3 separate regions of the Homo sapiens genome follow, and regions 2 and 3 are each linked to region 1. Evidence: fine-mapped expression QTL. A gene starts in region 1. Each other region holds a variant in brackets. All regions are shown on one strand. Distances are from middle to middle.

What was found. PIP is the estimated chance that this variant, and not a neighbour inherited with it, causes the effect.
Region 2: its variant is fine-mapped to the expression of PKD2 in whole blood (TOPMed, PIP above 0.99). The same link has a PIP of 0.9 or more in esophagus muscle, pituitary and spleen.
Region 3: its variant is fine-mapped to the expression of PKD2 in anterior cingulate cortex (GTEx, PIP 0.98). The same link has a PIP of 0.9 or more in prefrontal cortex and spinal cord.

The regions. Positions count from the first base shown.
Region 1 is chr4:88,003,539-88,011,816 of GRCh38, reverse strand. It overlaps PKD2 (polycystin 2, transient receptor potential cation channel), which reads right to left and starts at 4,182. Exons shown (of 15, transcript NM_000297.4): 1 at 3,489-4,182. The coding sequence starts at 4,083. RefSeq lists silencers at 3,300-3,439, 3,490-4,419.
Region 2 is chr4:88,047,772-88,055,771 of GRCh38, reverse strand. PKD2 (polycystin 2, transient receptor potential cation channel) reads right to left here. Exons shown (of 15, transcript NM_000297.4): 7 at 3,614-3,781. Among named protein-coding and RNA genes, the nearest start is that of PKD2, 44 kb to the right of the region's middle. The variant A/G (reference allele first, on the strand shown) is at 3,918.
Region 3 is chr4:87,973,324-87,981,601 of GRCh38, reverse strand. It overlaps SPP1 (secreted phosphoprotein 1), which reads right to left and starts at 5,888. Exons shown (of 7, transcript NM_001040058.2): 1 at 5,802-5,888; 2 at 4,653-4,720; 3 at 4,505-4,543; 4 at 1,476-1,556; 5 at 1,168-1,209; 6 at 1-127. The coding sequence starts at 4,706. LOC124900730 (a long non-coding RNA gene) reads left to right here and starts at 7,833. Exons shown (of 2, transcript XR_007058172.1): 1 at 7,833-7,963. RefSeq lists cis regulatory regions at 5,893-5,902, 5,937-5,946, 6,121-6,136, 6,574-6,582, 6,649-6,657 and 1 more, enhancers at 5,915-5,985, 5,748-6,247, 6,610-6,630 and promoters at 5,802-6,015, 5,805-6,892, 5,892-8,134. The variant G/A (reference allele first, on the strand shown) is at 3,813.

The DNA of each region.
Region 1 (8,278 bases):
AATTCATCAGTCACTGTGCATAGACTATCATGAACAGCAACTAAGAGCGGTGAGTTGGATGTTTGCAGTTTCTGTGTGGTAGCATCAACCAAAGCCATGTTCAAATCTTTTTTTAAGTCTCAATAACCTTTCCAATAACTAATTATGCTTCCCTTTAGACATCGAAAGGGAAGGCAGAAAAAATAAAAATTACATAAAGTATGGCAAAATGAAATAACTGCATTGGAGGTCACTTATTAAATACAATCAGCACACCAATTTCAATGTCAAGATCCAATTATTTTAGGAGAAATAAGAGTCGACTTATTATTTCATTCATTATTCCAGGTATTCAACCTGGAATACCCTCTCTAAAATGTTACACGAGCAAAAAATTAACTTCTTGTTCTTCAGGGTATTGAAGGGGAGGGAGGTATCTGTTTTAGCAGCTTAGCCCACCCTGACTTGCACAGCTAGTACTTCATAGTTTCTCTAGGAAAAAAAAAAAAAAGCCCAAGAATATACGCCTAAAATAACAAACAGGAACTGACTTTAACAGGTTGATACATTCAGAAAAACATTCAACTTCTGAAATTCAGAAAATTTTATGACTCAGAGTGCCATATTTTATCTTTGTACTAAAAAGAATTTGCTAAGAAAAGAATAAACAAATACTTGAGGATACTTTTAAATCTGGGCTTCATCTTTAAATCTTTCGGTCATCCTTGGCTTCCTTTGGTCCAGGCCCTCTTCACCTCCTTACTGGCTGCCTCCCACAGGTCTTCTTGCCTCCTTTCTCTCTGCCAAGCTCTCCTGTACACCATGCTGCTGACACAATTTCCTTTCAGCATGTTCTGTTCCTGCTCAGAAACTTTCAACTCCTTCCTAATATTTAGGGCTACATTCTCAATTCCTTGATTAGATACAATGCATACAGCAAACAGGCCTCAACAGGCCTCAAACATGTCTTCTTTCTTTACTATTTTACTTCTGCTAAGAAGATAGATCTATTTACTGTAGAAGGAGCAAAATCGACCATTTGTTGTCCATCTTGGATTCATGTCATTAAACAACAGACCAGAGCATGGTGAAGCTAGAAAGGACCTTGGAAGCTAGGTTCAATTCTTCCATTTTATAAATGAGGAGCTCAGGCTCAGGTAGTTTGAGGGAGCTATACAAAGTCACAAAGGCAAGAGACTTCCAGGGAAACTCCTGACCACTCCAAACTTCAGTCATTTCTCCCACCTTTAAAAATTGCAAGTTACTTTCTGTTCTGATCCTAGGGCACTGCTTACATAGTGCATATAAGATTTCTGTCATCAGTATCCAAAGGGGGCAGGGGGAATCTCAACCCATTCATGGCTATTTATTTTACATTTCTGGGTTTTTGTCCATAGGAAAACAGTGATATGCTATTCTAGTTTATTCATAGCAGCTAGCACAGTGCTATCTTCACAGTAGGTGCTAAACATTTTAAAATGTTGCTTATTTAATAAGTGACAAGAATATCAATTATATTTCTTCATAAAAGAAAGGAATAACAATTTATTTAAACATTTTATATAATTAAAACTTTTCAGCTAGGAGCAGCAGCTTGCACCTGTAATCCCAACTACTTGGGAAGCTGAGGTGGGAGGGCAGCTTGAGCCCAGGAGTTTGAGGCCGCAGTGAGCTACGTTTGCTTCCCCGCACTCCAGCCTCAGTGACAGAGTGAAACCCCGACTCTTAAAAAAAAAAAAAAAATTCCCGATTCCTGAGTCTGCTCTCCTACAAATCAGACCATTGACACACTTTGGCTAGAGGTTTTATGACTATGAGCTTATTCATTTTGTTTCCTGAAATTTTCCTTTAAAAGAAATAAATTTACATACATACTCATATGAAATATATATTTTATTTCTCTATATTCTGTTATTGAGTTTATTCAAACAAGGTTAGGGGTGTTATCAAATGCTTAAACTGAGTTAAAAGGATCATGCAACTTACCATTATTTATTAACTTAAAAGGAACTTCTCTCTCACTTCAGTGAATATTTTTTAAATGCACATTTTAAATGGTGTAAAATAACATAATTAATCCAGTTTTGAATCTTAAAAAGTGTTAGTGTTTTATTAATTTACTCACACAGGTTATCCGAAAAGGATCTTCTGTTCCCCATCATGCTTTTAATAAAATTAACTAGTATAAGAATCTCCATAAACGAAGTACCAAAATGTTTACATTTATATTTCTGAAGCGCTAATAACATGACAAATACATGCTGCACATTTTATGTCTTAACTCACTTAATTCTCCCAAAGAGTCAAGTCCTAAGCGTTATGATCATCTCTTTAAAAAAAAAAAAAATCCAAAAATTGGGTATCAGAGAGGATAAGTAACTTGCTCAAGGTCGTACAGCTAATGAGTGGTGGAACTGGGATTTCAGTGTAGGCCTGACCTGGTTTTAATCACACTGCTGTAACAACACCTGGATTGTTTTTGTGCAAGACTTTCAAAACTGACAGAAGGAGAAGAACAAGAAAAACTCAACTGAGAATGGAAACTCTTAAAAATATAGATTAAAATAATTTGGAGGGTAAAAGCAAATGAAATACTTTCCCAAGGATACCTCTGACAAAATTTGTAAAAAGAGAATTTCCTCTGGTACTAGAAAATTCATGTCCTCTTACTGGGCACTGGCAAATTTGAAAATTCCTCTTCTGCCTTTTGTAGAGCTGGGCGCACTGGGCTCAGACACATTTATCAGCTGCTATCTGGTGACTTCATCATTTTGGTGGAATTTCAAAGAACATTAATTTAGTTATTTAAAAACATACTTCAAATTTTTTTAAAACAATGTAATCTTTCCTTTGCAACTGTTTTTAGAAAAATGTCTAGAATTAGAAACGGCCAAATAACTTCACGATATTATTTTATTCTATTTGTGGTGTTCTTAACAGCTCCCACTCCTCAAAACAACCACACACATCACCAAAAAAATGCACCAATGACAATCTGCCACACTCCTCCCACAACTTGACATTATATGCACTGTACTGCTACCCTTTTCAGCCCGGGACAATGGAGTGTCCAGGCAAGAAGGAAACCACGGGTGACTATAACATTTTCCTTTAGATTTTGTGACATTGGCAAATATGCAGTTGCAACTACCATCAGTTACACAAGTAATGTTCATTTTTTCCTCTACAAGAAAAAAAAAAACAAAACCCAGATGTACTCTTTCACTCTAATTAGGCTTTCACTAATTTTCAGTAAAAAAGACTATGGTGACATATCCTGAAGAAGGAGGTATCCAATAAATATGCACCAACAAAAGAGCAGTGGAATTCCGCGCTGGGTACCGGAAATAGGGCAGCACTAGCGGAGGTGGGGAATGCGCTTCCAAGGGAGGCGGAACGCAGAGGGGATGCGAGATGGAGCCCGGGGAGCTGCCGCAGCGGGCGATGGCCCCGGCCGGCGCCGGCCGTTCTGGTTCGTGCATCTGCCGCTGCGGGTCGCGCGCTCTTACCTCGCAGCCCGCGAACCAGCCTCTCCGCCCAGGCCACTCGGGGCGGCTGCCCTTCCAGGGGGAGGTGGCGATGCAGCGGGTCCCCGCCGCCGACTGGGCTGGGGCACGGCGGGCCCTGGTCCTCTCGCCGGCGCCGCCTCCCGCTCGGGTGGCCCGCGCCGTGGTAGCCCCCAAGCCCCCGGCTCCGCGCGCCCACGGAGCTCACGGCCGAGGAGGCGGCCGACCTCCGGCTGCCCGGGCGCCACTCTACGTCCATCTCCACCACCATTCCGCCTTCTTCCCCTTCCACCTCCTCCTCCTCCTCCTCGGCCTCGAAGCCGGGGTTATCGCGGCTCCACGCCTGCCGGGAGCACGACGAGAGCGGAGGAGAAGGGGAGGCCGCGGCTCCGGCCGGGGGGTCCCGCGCGGCCGCCTGCCGGATGCGCTGCATCTCGATCTCCAGGCCCCGCTGCTCGCAGAGGCCGCCCGGGGCGGCGAGGCTGGCGCCCACGGCCGCGCAGCCAGCCATCAGCCGGCCCGGGTCCGGCGCGCGGGGCGCGGGCGGCCGCTTGGCGTCCCCGGGCTGCTGAGGCTGCACGCGACTGGAGTTCACCATCGCGGTCACTGGCGTCCGGCGCGCGGGTGCGCGGCGCCGCGCTCGGCGCTGTGCGCCTCAGGAGCCATGTTCCTTTCTTCCCGGCGCCCGCCGCCGCCTGCTCCCCGCCCCCGACCTCCCCGCGGTCCCGCGTCCTCTCGCCCGCCCCTTTGGCCCGCCTCCCTCTGGCCTCGCCCCGCCTCGCCCATCCGCCGCGGCGCGCTGAGCGGGGAGGTGCGAGGGAGCCGCCCCCGCGGTCTGCGCGCTCGCCCGGCGGCTCCCGAGTCCGCGTTCCAAGTGGAACCGGAGCCCGGGCGCGGGCGCCCACGTTCCATTCCCGGGAAGGCCTGGGAAGGGAGGGAATCGCTCACCCGCCAGCCCGCCTGCAGGGAAAGGGCTCCTGGAGCTGTCGATGCCTGCCCGACGCTGAGATAACTCTTGGGTCCCAGTTATCCACCAGCCACTTCTGCCTCGATTCACCAAAGGGCAGGGAAAGAACCTTTTGGTGAGATGGTGTGAATTAGCGACATCCAGCCTGAGCTGAAGTCTCCAGCGGGTCAAAGAAATCTTTCCATTTGCAAACTACCAAGGCTGACTTGCTGTGCATTTGGCGGGCCTCCTGCCCCTGATTCTGCTGGTTTGGAGATGCTTTCTCGCTCTTTGGTTGGCTTCTGTCTCCACACATTGTGGGGATCCCAGGGATTCGTCATAGGACTCTCGGATCGCTGGTGCCTCCACTGTGATCTCCGGTCTCCCTGCGGCCAGCACTGACTTCTAGCAACAGAATCCTGCATGAGGGCCTAGGCACAGAACTTTATTTCCACTCTTCTGAACACATCTAATGTGATGCTCTGCAATTGTCTGAAATTTATCCTACCCTAAGTCATTATCTTGTCCCCTTCTCTGGAACCTGCTTCACTTCCCGTATCCCAAGGTGAGGTTTGGGGCTTCGCTGTCCTCCTCACTTCCCAGGCCACTCTTCTTCATGGAAGCCTCGCGGTTTACCCTCCACCGCCTACACCTTATCTTCTTGTTACTTTTGCCCCACAGATATCACCCTGATATGATCTCTGTTTCTCACTCCTGCTGGCTTGATCTTATGTCTTGCATTATTCCGCATTAGAACAATTGATCCCTGTCAACTCCCATCTCTATTCTCCACGTCGGTGTCCTCACTATTTCCAGGTTATATTGCAGAACCAAAGCTGCTTATTTGTCACGTTGATGCTTAGACACCTCTGTGGGCTTCTGGCAGCTGAAAGGATAAAATTTAATTTCTGTGGTTTGGTTTAGTAAATTCTCATAATCTGCTCCTGTATTTGTTTGTTAGGGCTGCCATAACAAAGTACCAGAGACTGGGTGGCTTAACAGAAATTTATTTGCTCACCTTGTCTCTACAAAAAATACAAAAATTAGCCAGGCTTTGCGGTGTGTGCCTTTGGTCCCAGCTATTAGGGACGCTGAGGTGGGAGGATCGCTTGAGCCCGGGAGGCAGAGGATGTAGTGAGCCAAGATCGGGCCACTGCACTCCAAGTGACAGAGTGAGACTCTGTCTCATAAAGAAAGAAAGAGAGAGAGAGAAGAAAGAAAAAAAGAAGGAAGGAAGGAAAAAGAAAAGAAAAATTGTATTTTCTCACGAGGTGTTGGCAGAGTTGGTTTCTTCTGAGGCCTCTCTCCTTGGCTTGCAGATGGCCCCGCTTTTGTGTCCTCACGCCGTCTTCCCTCTTCCCTCTGTATGCGTCTGTGTCCTAATTGTCTATTCTTATACATCATATTGGATTAGGGCCTACCCTCATGACCTTGTTTTCACTTCATTACTTCTGTAAAGACCCTGTCTCCAAGTATGGTCATGTTCTGAGGTAATGGGGGTTAGGACTTCAACACAGAAATTTTTGGGGGGACACAATTTAGCTTTAACAGCTCTTAATGTACTCCTCTAGCATGGCATCCCATGCCATCCATCCACCTTAATGAATTATTCATTTGTTCTCTAGGCACATATAACATGCTGCTAATATTTAGGTAATTATGGCTACCTATTACCTGATCCTGCAGTTTATTAATTTAGATATTCATGTTCTTCTCTTAACTGTGAGCTTCTCAAAGGCAAGACTGGTGGGTCTGGAGCACAGCCCTAGCTCATGCTATTCATCAGTTCATTCTGAAGACATTTCCTGTGCCCTGAATTAAGGTCTGGGCATGTAGAGAGGAGTATGATACAGCCTTGGCCCTCAAGAGGAGACAGACCAAAAATGAGAGATTACCAAGTGGGTTAAGGGTTATGGTGCCTGTCATCCAAGGAACTTCTGAAGCTGAAGATGTCCTGAATAGCACCAGCAGCACTGCAGAGTCGAAGGATTCTTACAGACACATTCCAACAGAGGAGAGCCAGGCCTGGAAAGAGAATGCAGAATCTGAGCCAAAGGGTCCTCTGGAGAATAGGCCTAGTACAATGTTTTCAAATTGTGATCAGAAGATCTCCAGCATCACTTGCAGCTCTTGCTAAAAATATAGATACTGGGTCCACATTCCAACCTTATTGACTCAAAATCTTCCGGATTCCAGTCCTGAAATTCTGAATCTTCACAGGGGATTCTCAGGCATCCAAAGTTTGAGAAGCACCAATGTGTTCCAAATGGAAGAGGTTTCATAAATATTTCCCCCACATTTCTATACTTCACTGTTAGCACTAGTGAGACAATCATCTGGAATCCCAGACTTAGAAGAAAATTCAGTGGTCTTTGAGTCAGGTTACTCTATGCTTGTGCCTGCAGTCACTAATTCGTTGTAAGGACCCTGGAGCCAGACTGCCTGGATTCTGATTTACTCACTACTTCCTAGCTGTGTGACCTTGGGAAAGTCACTTTATCTCCTTGTACCACCAAAGATGAGGATAATGATAATGCCTACCTCATAGGGTTGTTGTGAGGATTAGGTGAATTAATACATGTGTTTTAGTCCATTCGGGCTGCTATAAAAAATATCATGTAGTGGGTGGCTTATAAACGATGAACCTTTATTTCTTACAGTTCTGGAAGCTGGACGGTCCAAGATCATGCTGCCAGCAGATTTGTGGTCTGGTGAGGGTCTACTTTCTGGTTCATAGACTGCACCTCCTAGCTGTGTCTTATGGTAGAAGGGGCAAAAGAGCTCCCTTGAGCTGCTTCTCTAAGGGCACTAATCCCATTTGTGAGGGCTCCAGCCCCATGATGTAATCACCTCTCAGAGGCCCCAGCTCCTTATACCATCACTTTGAAGGTTAGGATTTCAATGTATGAATTATGGGGGGGGAACACAAACACCCAGACCATAGCATGTGGAACACCGTCTGACATGTACGTGCTAATAGTGTTAGAAGTAGTCTTTGCTCTTATATCTTAATTATGATAACTGTTTTCATCTATGATAATTGCTTTTGTGGATGTCTTTGTTAGTGTTAGAAGTGGTCTTAGCTCTTATATCTTAATTATGATAACTATTTTCATCTATTATAATTGCTTTTGTGGATGTCTTTGTTCCAGCTAGGCTGTGAGTTTCTGGAGGGCTCCATGCCAATCCTAGAGGCTTCTATAACAAATACTTACTAAACACCTACTATATGCCAGGCACAATACTAGGAGAGACGGCAATTCATTAAATAGGGGAAAAGCCTAGCTCTCATAGAGGTGAGCTTATATTTTACAGGGTTTGAGGGGATTTAGAAGAGAGATTGCCCAGGCTGGCATGGGTAGGGAAGGTAGGTAGGGCCAGATCATAGGAAGCCTCAGATGTGTGTTAAGGAGTACAGACTCTCTATAGTTAATGATAACATAAATAGGCCTTTTTTTTTTCTTTCTAGAGTGTCAGTTCCTATTTAAAACAAAATCTGAAATCTTCCTGAAACTATATCCTCACCCTTAAAAGAATTCAAATTGATTGGAAATGTGTCTGCACATACATAATTCAGAGTTATATGTGTGCTTACCCAAAATTTTCTTTACAAATTATTGCAAGAAATGTAATCATTAAAAATTCGCAGCAATTTTTGTGTAATACCACTTAAATAGCATTTGGTCCATTGCACCCTAAATCTTACATTTTGGAGTTTCAATATTAATTTCAATCTTAATTTTCATAAACCCAACACCAGCCATCTAATATATTTCCTGTTCAAATACTTATTCATTCCTTCTGGCTTACTAAGGTTCCCTTTTGTGCTTTTATGTTAATTTGTTTC
Region 2 (8,000 bases), 44 kb before region 1:
TCTGAAAATAATGCAGCATAATGGCGATGGCTGCACAACACTGTGAATGTACTTAATGCCACTGAATTGTACACTTAAGCATGGTTAAAACAGTAGGTTTTATGCTATCTACAATTAAAAAAAAAAAAAAAAAGGCTGAGTGCAGTGGCTCACATCTATAATCCCGGCACTTTGGAAGACTGAGGCAGGAGGATCGCTTGAGCCCATGAGTTTAAGATCAGCCTGGGCAATATGGCAAGATTCTGTTTCATTAGAAAATAAAAATAAATTAGTCAGGTGTGGTGGCACACACCTGTGGTTTCAGCTACTCAGGAGGCTGAGGTGGGAGGGTTGCTTGAGCCTGGGAGGTCGAGGCTGCCGTGAACTGTGACTAGTGATGCTTTCCCCCCAAAAAGGATTAAAGTAAAAGGGAGGGAAAAAACTTCACACAAATAAAAATTAATTATAAAACCCCCCAGGAAATTCTTGTTGCATAATATTAACTGTCATTTATTGTGCATCAGTTATATGTGGAGGGCTTTATGTACATTGCCTCAAATCTCTGCAATGTCTGAAATATTGGCATTCTATCCCCAGGAGTCAGCTGGGGCCTGCAGCCAGCTGCCCTGCCTGAACTGCAAAGCCTGCTCTGCCTGACTGCAAAGAAATATTGAGCATGTTGGTAGATAGTGAACCCTGCTGGTAGACAGTGAACCCTGCAAAGCCATATTGAGCATGTTGGTAGATAAGGCACTGAGGATGGCTGCCCAGATTGTGTAGCTCTAAGTAGAAGCCTCAGTGGAAGAGCACATGATGAGATATTAGAAGTAGAGTCATGAGGCCGGGCGTGGTGGCTCAAGCCTGTAATCCCAGCACTTTGGGAGGCCGAGGTGGGTGGATCACGAGGTCAGGAGATCGAGACCATCCTGGCTAACACGGTGAAACCCCGTCTCTACTAAAAATATAAAAAATTAGCCGGGCGTGGTGGCAGCCGCCTGTAGTCCCAGCTACTCGGGAGGCTGAGGCAGGAGAATGGCGTGAACCCAGGAGACGGAGGTTGCAGTGAGCTAAGATTGTGCCACTGCACTCCAGCCTGGGCGACAGAGCAAGACTCCGTCCCAAAAAAAAAAAAAAAAAAAAAAGTAGAGTCATGATCCCTGCCTTAAAGACCTTAATGATAAAGTATCGAGGGGCAAGACATTTCCAAGAGAAGCACTAAATAAAACACATCAGCCTGAGACACATGTTGTAGGAAAATCTCTAGAAGTTTAAAGGTCTGTTACACATTGTTACTGGCCACAGTGAAATATTTCTTGAGGATTGCTGTAATCACATTACTTAATCATTACTTAATACAATCCCAATTCATTTGAGATCTTTTTTTTTTTTTTTTGAGACGAAGTGCTGCTCTGTTGCCCAGGCTGGAGTGCAGTGGCATGATTCAGCTCACCGCAACCTCTGCTTCCTGGGTTCAAGCAATTCTCCTGCCTCAGATTCCCAAGTAGCTGGGATCATAGGCACGTGCCACCACACCCAGCTAATTTTTTTTTTTTGTATTTTTAGTAGGGACAGGGTTTCACCATGTTGGCCAGGCTGGTCTCAAACCCGACGTCAGGTGATCTGCCCGCCTCAGCCTCCCAAAGTGCGTGAGCCACTGTGCCCAGCTGAGATCTTGATTATTATTACTATCTTGATTATTATTACTATCTTGATTATTATTATTAAACTAATAATAATCAAGGAAACTTCAGTAATTCTCAGGCAGCACCTGCCATCCTTTCACCAGCACAGGCTCTGACTGTGCTATCCAAACATGTGTGGATATCTAAATTCAAATTTAAATTAAGTAAGATTAAATACAATTAAAAATTCAGTCCCTTGGTCCTACTAGCCACATGTTAAGTGTTCCATGCCTATACATGGTTAGTGGCTACTGTCTAGGACAATGAAAATATAGAACATTTCCATCACCACAGAACATTCTTATTACTATTATTATTTTTGCTGTTTGATTATTATTACTATGTTATGATCAAGGTTTTGTGCTTTAGTGATGGTTTCTCTTGAACAAGCATGTCAATAAATAAATAGCATGAGAAATACAGGATAAAGTCTATGCATTTTTTTTTTTTTTTTGAGACAGGGTCTCACTCTGTTGCCCAGGCTGGAGTGCAGCGGTGCGATCTTGGCTCACTGCACCCTCCGCCTTCTGGATTCAAGCAATCCTCCCGCCTAAGCCTCCTAAGTAGCTAGGACTACAGGCACGTGCCACCACCCCCAGCTAATTTTTGTATTTTTAGTAGAGATGAGGTTTTGCCATGTTGCCCAGGCTGGTATCAGACTCCTGGGCTCAGGGGACCTATCTCGGCCTCCCAAAATGCTGGAATTACAGGCATGAGCCACTGCGCCTGGTCCAAGTCTATGTCTTGTGATAAACCTCAGGTCTTCTAGGTATGAATACCAACTCAGAAAAGTACATAACGGGTAAGTACCTTCCAGAACAGTGCTTTTCAAGAGAACGTTCTGTGATGATGGAAATGTTCTACATTTCCACTGTCCTAGACAGTAGCCATTGAACACTTAATGTGTGGCCAGTAGGACCAAGGAACTGCGTTTTTAATTGTATTTAAGCTTAACTAATTTAAATTTGAATTTAAATAGGCACATGTGGCTAGTACTTACTGTCTGGACAGCACAATCAGAGCCTGTGCTGGTGACCGAATGGCAGCTGCTGCCTGAGAATTATTGAAATTTCCTGCATCTCCAGAATTGAGGCTTGTTGTATATGAAATGTCATAACCTTTCACACACATGGAAATGCACATTATATCTTGGGACAATAAGGAAAATAGTGAGCAAGGAACTATTTGGAAGCAGTGTCTGTTCCAACCTTAATTCTAGGTAAAGCTTCCCTTACAGCCTCTACCTGGAAAAGAGGCGATCCCTTCTAGCAAGCATTTCCAAGTGCAGCAACTCTCCCCTTCCCTCCACCTGCTCCTTCCCTCTCTTTCTCTAAGTTCCTTTTCCTTCACCTGTTCATCTCATCTGTTAGCAGCCTGGGGCCCCAGGCCCAGCTAACACACTGAAAGGCCTCTTACTGCATTTGTTAAACAAAACCTATAGGGACTGATCTTGCACTAATTCAGATAGCAGAAGTATGTCATTGACAGTGAGAGGAATGATCACATGAGTCTCAATAGTTTACTTTATATGTAAAATATGAGGCCTGGCACGGTGGCTCATGCCTGTAATCCCAGCACTTTGGGAGGCTGAGGTGGGAGGATTGCTTGAACCCAGGAGTTCAAAACCAGCCTGGGCAACATAATGAGACCTTGTCTCTACGAAAAAATTTAAAAATTAGCCGGGTATGGTGGCACATGCCTGTAGTCCCAGTGACTTCGGAGGATAAGGTGGGAGGATCGCTTGGGCCTGGGAAGTCGAGGCTGCAATGAGCTGTAATCATACCACTGCACTCCAGCCTGGGTGACAGAGTGAGACCCTGTCTCAAAGTAAATATTGAGCAGCTTTGGCTGGTCACTTGAATTTCAAATTCAAGTATTCCATGATTTTGTGGAACTCATTTTTTTTAAAGAAAATATTATTTAAAATGTAGAACATGAAATTTATAAATTACCTTAATCCAGACAAAAAATACTGTGACAGCAGCTATATTGTTGAACTGTATCTGCCAATATGCCAGATGCTCAAAGTTGGGGAAAGTATTTTGATCTTCCAGAAACTGTAGTAGCACCTCCACATTTGATGTTCTGTATATGTTAATTCCTATAGCTACCACTGACAGCTGAAAAGCAAAATATTTATATTTTATTACAGTGTTTTAGAAATATGAAACTTACCTTAATATGACTAGTATATTTTTCTTCACCAATGTATTAATTATAAGGGCTCACCATTATACTTACCCGATGTCATTCTTA[A/G]AAGTCACTCACTCAAATGGAAAGTGTTAAGCCCTGCCATAAAATAAGTAAAACAGTATATTGCTTGCATTTCCTTAGTTCGGAATAGAAACTCAACGAAGGCATGCATGCATGTGTGTGCACATATACATTACACACACATACATGCATACACAGAAGAGATCACACTATAACAGACTCAAACTCAAAGAGGAATGCTTTCTGTTTTTTCTGCCACCTTCATTTTAATCACTTTCCACCCTTTTGCTTTCTTGCCTTCATCCTGCTGTTTTTATTTGTGATTTTTAAATTTAAAATTTTTCGGTTTCTCTGCATTCTCCAATTGCCAGCCATTCTTTGCTCTGTTTAACAAAAATATAGTAGATGTCTATGTATACAGCACTGTGCAAGGGCTAAGAGGAATAAACAGAAGTAAACTGCATAAATCCTGCCCTCGAGACTCAAGAGCAGATAAACACATGAAGTTAAATAATACAAAAAACTACTAAAGAGTTGGTATCACACAACATAAAGTCAAGAGGGACAAAAGATATCCTAAAAATGAGTGCCCATGAGAACAAAGCATGAGCTTGGGCTTGAAAGACAGTGGGAATGATGAATACAGAGGGCTCAAGAAGGCCTGCAGTGGGAATATATGAGCCAAGGGCTTCTCTCTTGCTCATTTCTGTCCCTTAACTCATGACCCTACAACTTTCCACATATGCTTTGGTTCTAAGCTTTACAATCAGATCCAAGGGGACACTGCCCCCTCCTTGGCATCCATCACCACTAAATGTAGACAGTGCTAGGGGTTAGTCATAACAACCTGGCCCCACCAGGGGGTCTGAATCTGCAGCAGGTGGGCTGTGGCAGGTGCTGCGATCTTTGCTGTCCATTCTCTCTTCTTAGGAATCATGGCCAGAGACCACTTCATTAGCCCTCCCTTCCTGAGATGACCATAGAGATCATGGTCCCACTGATTCTCATAGCAAAGACCAGCTTGGTTGCTGATCACAGCTAAAAAGCCAACCTCACCATCTTCCTTTCCTTCCTTCTCTGTGAAGGATTTCCAGAGCCAATCTTGTATTTTTGTGTTGGTGGTGGGAATGATGAACACAGCAGACTCAAGAAGGCCTGCAGTGGGAATAGGCTTCTCCTGAGATGAGGAGCTCATCTCAGCTAATACATGTAGAAAAACATTTGGGTTGGTGGACTGGATCCAATGGTAACTCTTTACCCAACTCTCAATAGGTATAATTTGTTATGCAGTCCAGTTGTTTTTACTCTGCACAGGACAAATGTTTATAAAATAATGAAGAAGATGGTCATTTATACAACATCAATGTCTTTGAAACCTTTCCTTCCAAATAGGGAATGAAAGATGAGGAAAGAGATTTTGTGAGCATTTGCATTGTTACATCACTCCTGAGTTTTCTGTGGGATTCTCATCCCTATCTACAAAAGAACTTTCTCTCCATACCAGAAAATTGGGAGGGCAGAGATTTGGGTGATTTTGTTCATTCCTGTATCCCCAGTGCCTAGAACAGTGGCAAGTACATAGTAGGTGCTCAGAAAACACTCGCTGAATAAATGAATTAGTCGGGCCAGGCGCGGTGGTTCACGCCTGTAATCCCAGCACTTTGGGAGGCTGAGGTGGGCGGATCACGAGGTCAGGAGATCGAGACCATCCTGGCTAACTCGGTGAAACCCTGTCTCTACTAAAAATACAAAAAATTAGCTGGGCATGGTGGCAGGCACCTGTAGTCCCAGCTACTCAGGAGGCTGAGGAGGGAGAATGGCGTGAACCCGGGAGGCAGAGCTTGCAGTGAGCCGAGATGGTGCCACTGTACTCCAGTCTGGGTGACAGAGCAAGACTCCATCTCAAAAAAAAAAAAAAAAAAAAAAATTTACCCTGTACAACCTAGCAAGTGGTCAATAAATTATTTGAGTTTAAATTCCTTAATAGTCTTCTTTTTTTCAAGTAATTCTTCTAGTTTTGAAAGACTATTGCTCAGGACAAATGGCTGACTGATGCAGCCTGTGTACTTCAGAACATATGTTGGGGAAAGAAAAAAGGAAAATAAAGAAAATTTCAAAGTGATTTCAAGATGTGATTGTATTTATATTAAGAATATAATTTCTTTTCAGGTTTTGGGTAAGCATAAGCAAATTTTGGCTAGATAAAACAAAAAGCGTTGGGTCTTTCCACTGGTTTGAAGGTCCAGTGGAGCACAGGGTGTGTTTTGTGGGTGAGCAGAAGGCATGCCCTCACTTCTACACTTGGTCAGCAAAAGTTTCAAAGGACAAGTGAGATTCCAGTAGCCCTTCCTTGTTCTTTATAAACAAAAAGCACACTGTCTGAATTGTTGTCTGGCAGTATTAAGTGTTGTTTAAAAAAAAAATTGAAAAACACAGTGAAGCAAGTTTTCAAAGAAACACTTGCAAAATGCTGTGGCTGTTGAGCCAAAGAGACAATTTCCATGATATCATTGCCTTTCTTCCTATTGGTCGCCAAAGCAGGTGCAAGGCAATTCACTGGGCTATGGGAAGAAAATGTTACAACTTCTAGGTAGGTGGTAAGAAAGTTTTGGAATTCTATTTGTATTAACTTTTATTCCAATCTTTAAAATTCTATGTATGTGTATGTTTTACGGATGTACCTGTTACACCAAAGTAGGCACACAATTTACAAATAAAGATAATAAATTAGGGTGTGTAGTAGTCAAAGCTTTCACTGATAGGTGTGTATGATCAAAAAGGGTGAATACCACTGACTAGTCTTTTGTTGATATTGAGTTCTTTGGTTAAAATATAAAAAGGAAGTCTGTTCTTAATTAGCATATCATACTTACCTTTCTACCATTATTTCAATGGCCTAAACATAAATAAATCCATATAAGCCAAGAGGCAGGGTTTGCATCCTTTTAGCTCCAAACAATAATTGTGTTCTGGAATAATTGTCAATGTATATGGCCTGCACTCTGCCATCAATCCGAACAGAAATATTCTGAAAAATTATTTCCAGTATTATCGTCTCTCCTGTTTCCTTAAATGCTAAAATTCTTGTGTAACTCTGTTCATTATTAATACATTGAGAATTTGGGGATCAAGGGTTTACCTTGATTTGTGTGATGTTGTATGGCCATCGTAAAAGACGGGATGCACTTCTAACTGCATCACGGTCTGATGGGGTCAACACCATCTATTCTACAGGAATTTTTACTTTAAGTAAAAACTCTAAAGTGCACATATCCATGGCTTGAGAGGCAGTGGCAGAGTAGTGAAGAGGGTTAGTATGAGGAACAAATGAGCTTCTGTACCATGAAAAGCACCCGGAAATGCCTAACACAGAAGCTTCTAAAGTGTTAGCCATTATTATTATTACTATTACAATTATTATTGCTGCTAATATAGTTATTGCCATGCAATATATGGCCATGTAGTTCTTTTTTATGCTTTAAGTGTTCTTTCACTCACATATGAATAATATATTTTCCATATTTTATCAACTATTAATAATTCTAGTGGGGAATAGTTTAATAATGACTTGATCTAAATACTCCACAAAGGCCAAATGAATTTTTAGGAGTGGGATGAGGGAAAGAATAACTCTCATAAGGAGGGCTAACAGAAGAGAGAATGCTAATAGGGTAGTGCATCATTTACTGAGATTTCAGAAGGTAATGGCTATCATAGGACAGTGGGAAGGAAAGACATAGAATAATACATGGTACACCTATGCCAAGCAAAGCTTGTAAGCATCTAATAATTAAGCATGTTGTTATATGCTTAAATGTACAACTGGACTTAGCGAAATGTTACCTGTTATTGCTGAAGGGAGAAAAGCTTGTAAAAATTCTTTTATACACTGAAACCACAGGAAGGAAGTGACGGATGCTTAATTAAGTGATAAGGATGAAGGGAAAACATCTTGAAAAAAATCTTAGAAGTTATAATAGAGTCAAGAGCAGACACAGAATTTACATGGTGTCATGGTCTTGATTATGACTCTGCCTTTGATTTATTTTTTATTTTTATTTTTTAGAGATGGGGTCTCACTATGTTGCCCAGGCTGGTATCAAACTCCTGATCTCAAGTGATCCT
Region 3 (8,278 bases), 30 kb after region 1:
CAGTGTCATCTACATCATCAGAGTCGTTCGAGTCAATGGAGTCCTGGCTGTCCACATGGTCATCATCATCTTCATCATCCATATCATCCATGTGGTCATGGCTTTCGTTGGACTTACTTGGAAGGGTCTGAAAATTAAGATGGCCGGGAAAATTAATATATGGGTTTTTATTTTCCCTTAGCCTTTATAGCACATTAGTCTTTTACTATCTTTCTTTTTATTTAGTTTCAGAATCTTTGCATTCACAGTACATACCATGGCTTTTAGGAGCTAAAGTGAGCATCTTCCAATTTCTCTTTTAACACAGGGATTAATAACATTCTGAAGAACATTTCTTACTTTGCAACAGAAATTATTTTTATAGATATTTTCAAGCCAAATATGTGAGTATAATCTTCATGTCAATAACATTGTTTTTCCTTATACATATTAAACATTATTTACTAAATTCAATGATGTAATAGATACAGATACATAATTATGAGACTGGTTTTTTTATTTGAAATGAGATTTATCAAAAGAGAAGAGTATCCATATTTTAATGTGTGTACTAAAATCTATAACCACTTTCCTATTAACATGGATAATTGAAAGGTGACTCTGTTATGCATGTGTGTATAAACTGCAGCTCAAAACTGCCCATTGAATTAAACAACTAATGTCTATCAAATTTCAAATTGACAAATATATTGGGTAATTTATCTAACTTGCTTTAATATTCTTAGTATATTCAAATTGAATCTTAAGGAAAATAAATTTACTCTTTGCTTAGCAAATATATGAATGATCCTAATAAAAAGAATAGTTGTCAAATAAACTATTTTATTAGGAAAGAAAACTTTCCTAAAGGCAAAATCTTAGCTTTGATATGCATTAATTAGATGCTTATTAGATATTAGATATCTACAAAATACCTTAAATAAATTGCAAGCAGATTAATGTTTCAAATAACAGGCATTAATAAACATCTTCTGTAATGCTAAACTTATCCGAGGAAACCTAGTATTTCTGATATTTAGTAAATACATGTTTTATTTATGAGCAAGTTTTAGACTGCCAATTAGCTGGAAAACTTGCTAATGAAATTTCATCAGAAGAGAATCCAGGCAATGCCTTCTTTCATCTCTTCAAGGCATGATGGGCCTCTGATTGAAAATGAGAACTTACCTCTTGTTTAAAGTCATTGGTTTCTTCAGAGGACACAGCATTCTGAAGAAGGAATGGCACGTGTTAGTGCGCATCACACATGCCTAGCTTTTTTATTCAAAAGTTAACCTTTTTAATCCAAAGCAGTTTTTATTTTTCAGCCTCATCTGTGGATGGCTTAACACAGAGAGAAGCCAACATGGCAGATCAGTCAATGTCCTAAGCACATGTTTGCCAGCAGGCAGGCAGGATTCATCTGAGCAGCCCAAATGGCCTGAGTGTGGCTATCTTTCATCACTGTAGTTTAATTATGAGAAGTTTAAAAATACCTGTGGGGCTAGGAGATTCTGCTTCTGAGATGGGTCAGGGTTTAGCCATGTGGCCACAGCATCTGGGTATTTGTTGTAAAGCTACAAAAAAGTTGCATGTTTATCATTATTAAAAAAAGAAATGTAGGGATGAATGGAAAAAACAACCATTCTTCACTAGTCTTGATGGAAGCATATAGTCACCCGGACCCTTAGGTACCTTTTTGTAATTTTTTTTTTTTTGCAGATTCATTTAACAAACTCTTATGTAGCACTTACTGTGGGCTAGGCACTCTTTCAAATTGCTTTACAAATATGAACTCATTTGATCCTTTCATTCCCCTATGAGATAGGTATCATTATTATTCCCACCTTACAGATCAGAAAACTCAGCCACAGTGCAGTTAAGTGGTAGGAAATGGCAGAGCCAGGCAGGGTTCAAACGCAGGCAAACTAGCTCTTAACACCGAACTTCACACTGTGCTTTCTTTTTGTATGTTTGCTGGCTGAATTTTCCTCTCAGATAAAGCACATCTAAACCAGAAGTGACCTTAATTACTGTTAATCTTCATTGTGTCCAGTCCATGGAACAAGAAGGAACTCTCTAAGACTGTGCTAATTCAGTATCCTCTAACCACATGGAGCTATTTAAATTTAAGTTAATTAAAATGAAATGGCTAGGCACGGTGGCTCACCCCTGTAATCCCAGCACTTTGGGAGGCCGAGGCAGGCGGATCACGAGGTCAGGAGATCGAGAACATCCTGGCTAACACAGTGAAACCCCGTTTCTACTAAAAAAAATAAAAATAAAAAAAAATAGCCGGGCGTGGTGGCAGGCACCTGTACCCCCAGCTACTGGGGAGGCTGAGGCAAGAGAATGGCGTGAACCCAGGAGGCAGAGCTTGCAGTGAGCCAAGATTGCGCCACTGCACTCCAGCCTGGGTGACAGAGCAAGACTCCATCTCAAAAAAAAAAAAAAAAAAAAAGAAGATAAAAATTCAGTTCCTCAGTTGCACTAGCCCACATTTTGAGTGCTCAATAGCCATATGTATCTTATCAGCCAATGTAGAAATATAATATTAAAATCATTGCACAAAAGTTCTATTGCTGTAAGGTGCCAAAGATGTAAATGAAATGGATTTTTCTTTAGCCAAGTTATTTATCTGGAAAATACTGATAATATGCTACTGCAAAGGAGTGGAAATTGCTCTGAGTAAGTATCATCTGATCTGCTGAATCATCCAGGGCCAATCATTACATTTCCCTGTCACTGAGAATGAGAACTCTGGGGGTTGCACAGAGTTCCTTCTGCAGCCACCTAAGGGGTGGATGAGTAGAGAGAGAACCAGTCAGAAGTACTTGGAGTTTCTCTCATGGCTGGCTCTAACCAGAGGAGCTTAGTATTGGGCTTCTCCGAAAGGTTTTGCTGAAAGAAGGGGTTCCTTGCTTTAAGAAGATGAAAAAACAGCCGGGCGCAGTGGCTCACGCCTGTAATCCCAGCACTTTGGGAGGCCAAGGAGGGTGGATCACGAGGTCAGGAGATGGAGACCATCCTGGCTAACACGGTGAAACCCCGTCTCTACTAAAAATACAAAAAATTATCCGGGCGTGGTGGCGGGCGCCTGTAGTCCCAGCTACTCAGGAGAATGGGGTGAACCTGGGAGGCGGAGCTTGCAGTGAGCCGAGATCACACCACTGCACTCCAGCCTGGGCGACGGAGCGAGACTCCGTCTCAAAAAAAAAAAAAAAAAAAAAAAAAGAAGGCGGAAAAACAGTGAGACCAGATGAGTTCAGAGTTTTTCTCTTCACTTTTTCATATCTATCTATCTATTCTCATGACACATGTAATACAGGCTCAGAGAGAATGGATGTATAAGTTACATTTATAATTTTTAAAAACTAATATGAAGAAAATAAAGGTAAGCAAAATGAATAGACTAAAAACCACCCAGTAATCCTAACACTCACAGATAACCAGTGTGTATTTTCAGGCATATATCCTTAGAGACTTCCCCAATTTTTTACTAGCTTTAAGTTTCTGGGATTCTAGAAGGCTGAGCCTTGAGCTCTTCACGTATTTCTTAAATTGTTATAGCTCCACGTGCCTTCTAAAATGCATCTTTGCCATATTTTCGTTTATTAAAAAGACGCTAATTCTTGCCTCAAATAGTATGACCTCTATCTTCTCTGGAGATGTTAATTTTTCTGGTTTATTATTAGGATTCAACACCTGTATTTTCAAATCAGTTGAAAAACAGACACACACACCCCTCCACACACAAACGAACACAGAATACTTCTTTTAATGTCTTCATTAAGCAGTCTAATTGCAGTGACCCCCAAGGCAGCTCTATTTTG[G/A]CCTTTATTCTGTTCAACTGGAATTGAACTCTGTGTGCCTTTTTGTCCAAGCTTCTGGGGACAATGCCCATTTGTTGTTTGGCTGGCACAGTTTCATCTGTTGTGGAGGGGTAGGTACATCTTTAGTGCTGGTCAAATAATTATAATAAAGAGTTTGGTTGGTCTTATGTTTGGTTAGAAAATGTGATCTAACATCAGCTGACAATCACAATAGATACAAACAGCACACATAGACTTTCTTTTCACAATGGGCTTCTCAGCTAATATCTCAGACAATATTGTGAATATTATGGTCATACAAACAGTTCTGACTAATATCCAATGTGAATTTTAAACTTAGCAATCCACTAAACAAAGCAAAAGCTGGAATTTTCTGCTTTTAGATCAGTATGTGGACTAATGGAAAAAAAGTCACACAACTTCATATAACTTATCTTACATGCGATAACTCATCATACATGCCTAGATATTATTATATTTAAAATATCTGGGTTGGTTTTATAAACTTATATTTATTAAAAACTATACTGTGCTTGGTACTGGCCTAGATTCATAGCAGGCAGTCAATCAATACTTGTAAACCAATGGATTTGACTGAGAAGATAAGTAATATCGCAGCAAATACGTTTCTTGCACCTCTCGCCATAATTGAGTAAATGATTTAACTATATAAAAACATAAAAGATGCTTACCTGCTTTTCCTCAGAACTTCCAGAATCAGCCTGTTTAACCTTAGAAACAGAAAAGATGAAGAAAGATTACAAGAATGTCCTCCTAGCACATGGAAGCACACAATTCAGTTATTTTCAGGAATTTTCTTTAAGATGCAACTGTACTCACTGGTATGGCACAGGTGATGCCTAGGAGGCAAAAGCAAATCACTGCAATTCTCATGGTAGTGAGTTTTCCTGCAAAATATTTCATAAGGAATAGCTGACATCTTCATAGGTTACAACAGTGATACCTTTTTATACTACCACATTACAAAATGATCACAAATAAAATATATTTTCTATAGAATCTTTTCTACTTCTTAGAGATGCCTTTTCTTTTTAGTATTATAGTCTTTCAAGTTAATATTTATATTGCCACCTATTATCCATCTTTCACTATTAGGCAAGGGAAAGGGAAATTTTGCAAGTCTGTATTTATTCAACTTTAAAATTTAGAGTTCCAGAAATTATACCATTACTACCTTATATATCTAGCTCTCTAAACCTACAAACAGATCAACAGTAACTTAATTATATTAATAAGCTAGTATGGGAATATTTTTTAGAGAAGAAAAAACTCACAGAAAAAAATGAAAAAAATTTGCTTTATCCATTTTTCCAACATGTACTTTAAATGTGACTTTTAGCTTAATTATCAAGTAGGTGCTACTTAGGTGAAATCAAACTATCTCTGAAATTTGTTATTTAAGTAAGATGTTCTAAAAATTTGAAATTCAAAGGAAAACATTGAAAATAGCCAACAGCTTTTCTATTTGTAATAATAAGCCTACACAGTGTCATACAGGTATCTTGGTGAATATTTTAACAGCTAAATTTAGCAGTGGCATATTCAGAAAGGGTTTTCTTCCCCTTAAAAGTGAGATACATCATTTAAAAAATAGCATTGTAATTGGTTTAATTAGCATAAAAGATCCCTTTTCTTTTAAATTCCTGCACAGTCACCCACTGAAAATTATATAGGTATAATTATTCCAAAGGGGAATTTAATTTTACTATTTTCTGATTAGCATCGGTGGTTTCCGTTCTTTTGAGGACCCAGTGGAAGTATTTTTAAGTTTTAAATTTGATTGGCATTCAAAATATCTAGACACCTTTGTTCCAGGAGACCTGCAATGTATCTAATCTGCTTATTAAAAAGGCTAGAAAATTTAAGTCTGTTTAACAGCATTACAATTAAAAATATTTTTCCTTAGAATTTGGACTTCCCCATGAAATTCAGCTGAATGCACAACCCAGTAGCAAACTGAAGCTGTACCTTGGTCGGCGTTTGGCTGAGAAGGCTGCAACTGGCCTGAGACGAGTCTGGTCCCGACGATGCTGTGCTCTGCCTCCTCCTGCTGCTGCTGACAACCAAGCCCTCCCAGAATTTAAATGCTGCTGCAGACATCCTCCACCAACACAGGGAGGCGGAGAGATTGTGTCATGAGGTTTTCTGCCACTGCCCAGCCCACCTGCTCCCACACTTCCCCCTCTGGTTTTGTGGTTAAAACAAAAAAAAACAAAAACGCACACACACAATCTACAGTTAAAACATTACTTATGTACAATATCATTAACTAGCTTTTTCATTTACGGGATGGGCATTCAGCATCCAGGAAGAGCACTTAGGGATCCCATGAAAAAGGGAGAAAGTAGGGAAAAACATTAATGTAAAATTAAATAGAATGGATTTTTGTTTCTTTCGGTTTAAGTAACATAAAGGTAATATCTGCAACCACTCTTGCCTGTATGATTGTACTTATTGAAGAGCCAGAAGGCTATTGTTCAAGCCTGCAAGGAGTTCAGAAAACTTGCCTCTGTCCTTTACTACTCAAGCTTAGCTTTGTGATTTCGAGTATGCAGTAGCTTGTTACTTAGACAAATGGCACTAGTGACATTAAAATATAAAATTCTATATGAAATAGAAGAATGGTAATTTATTCTAGATGTTGCAGAAGTAAAGCAGTTTCTGACTGAGAGCAGGATGACTGCTTGAGAGGGCTGCTTCAGGAGCCAGACCGTGGTTCTGAATTCCGCTGTGTCACTGCTGACCTGTGCAACCTTGGGCAAATCGCCCAGCCTACCTATCCTTGTTCCCTCATCCATGAAATGCAATACTATTACCTAGGTCATGGGGTTTTTGAGGGGTTTAAATGAATTAGTATGTTAAACTAGCAATGCTTAGCACATATTAGATGCAAATGCTCTGCGTATCTTAAGGACTATATGTGTGTTAACTATTATGAAATTTTTAAGAGGGGCAGGCAGTCACGAATTGTAATGTCCTTTAAAAGAACAGGTTATTAAAATGAGAGTAGACGTAAGATCTTTAAATTGTATGCATCAATAAGGAAATTTTGCACATTTCTAAAGGAACAGATTCGATTTTGGAATCATCTTTTTTTCTAGTTTTTCTCCCAAGGTATGTAAAGTAGGCCACTTAAAAAGAAAAACATTTTTAAAAATTTCTGTATTAAAAAACACTTTACTAGGTATTTAAAAGGTGTCTGAATGAAAGAAAATTACAGGGAAAGTCCGAATATTAGAGCAGAATTCAGGGATAGCAGAGCTCTGGGTCCTTTTAAAATATTTAATATTGCCTTGAGATTACTTATCTTCATTTGCTTTCTCAGTTGTGAAATGCAGATTGCACTATTTATTTACCTTACACCTTTATTGTTAAGACTTGTGTGTAATTGAGATGAAAAATAAATGGTCCTATTTATTATTAGGTTGCTGCAAAAGTAATTGTGGTTTTTATTAGTCCTAAAGTGTCAGCTTCCTTTTGCCAAATATTACTTTTAATATAAATATAGATTAAATAATGTCTTGCAGTGATAGTGTATAGCTAATTCATAGGTTTCATGAACATTTGGTAGGGGGAAATATGTCTCCCTTAAATTGGATGTATTCCAGATGAATTGATATGATTGGTTTGTAGGTAATAAGCACCCATTTTAATAAGTAAGATGACGACTATCTCTATAAAATAGAAAGCACACAGATTATAAAGTTGCAAAATAGACTTCTTTTTTCTGCTTCTAAAAACTATTTTTTTCCTTTAAACATACCCGCATAAGCGTGTCATGTTGTCAATTTAGTGGAGGGAAGTCTGAAAATTCTAAAAACAACAAAATTTCCACAGGATTTACTGTAGTTTACTCTGTGCCCACGGGAATGATTCAATATGAAGCTAGAATTAATTATAGGAATAGATTATGCTGGAGCCCAGCCATCTTGAGATGAACCATACGACCCTTTACAGGACTCTTCTGGTCATAGCTCCGCAGTGCCACACGATGGCAGCATTTCTGAAAAAAGATTTCAGACCACAATCTGGTTCTACCAATTTTCTTAATTCCAGCGGGATAGAACACTCCTGTATTTAATGACAGGACTATATACAGCTGTGGAGCTCTCCATTTCTTGGAATGCCAGGTGAGGAAATATTTCCCAACAATGACCCGCTATGCAATCAGGGACAGAGACCCAGAGAACCAAAGCGTTCTTGTTTTGCTCTGTTGTTGCCTTAGGCAATCCCAAGTTGACACTATTGTCTCCTTCCCGACTTCTACACTCATTCAAAAAGTTCCTAGTCCCAAGGCCTCTCTCAGAGAAAAGGCTTGTGAATTCACGGGTAAAGAATGTGTCTGGGATGCTTTGGAGTTGAGAAGATAAAGTGATTTATAATGGGAGGCAATTCTGTAAAGTAGGAAATGGATGCTGCGTCATTCTGACTATCGGGGAGGTCAT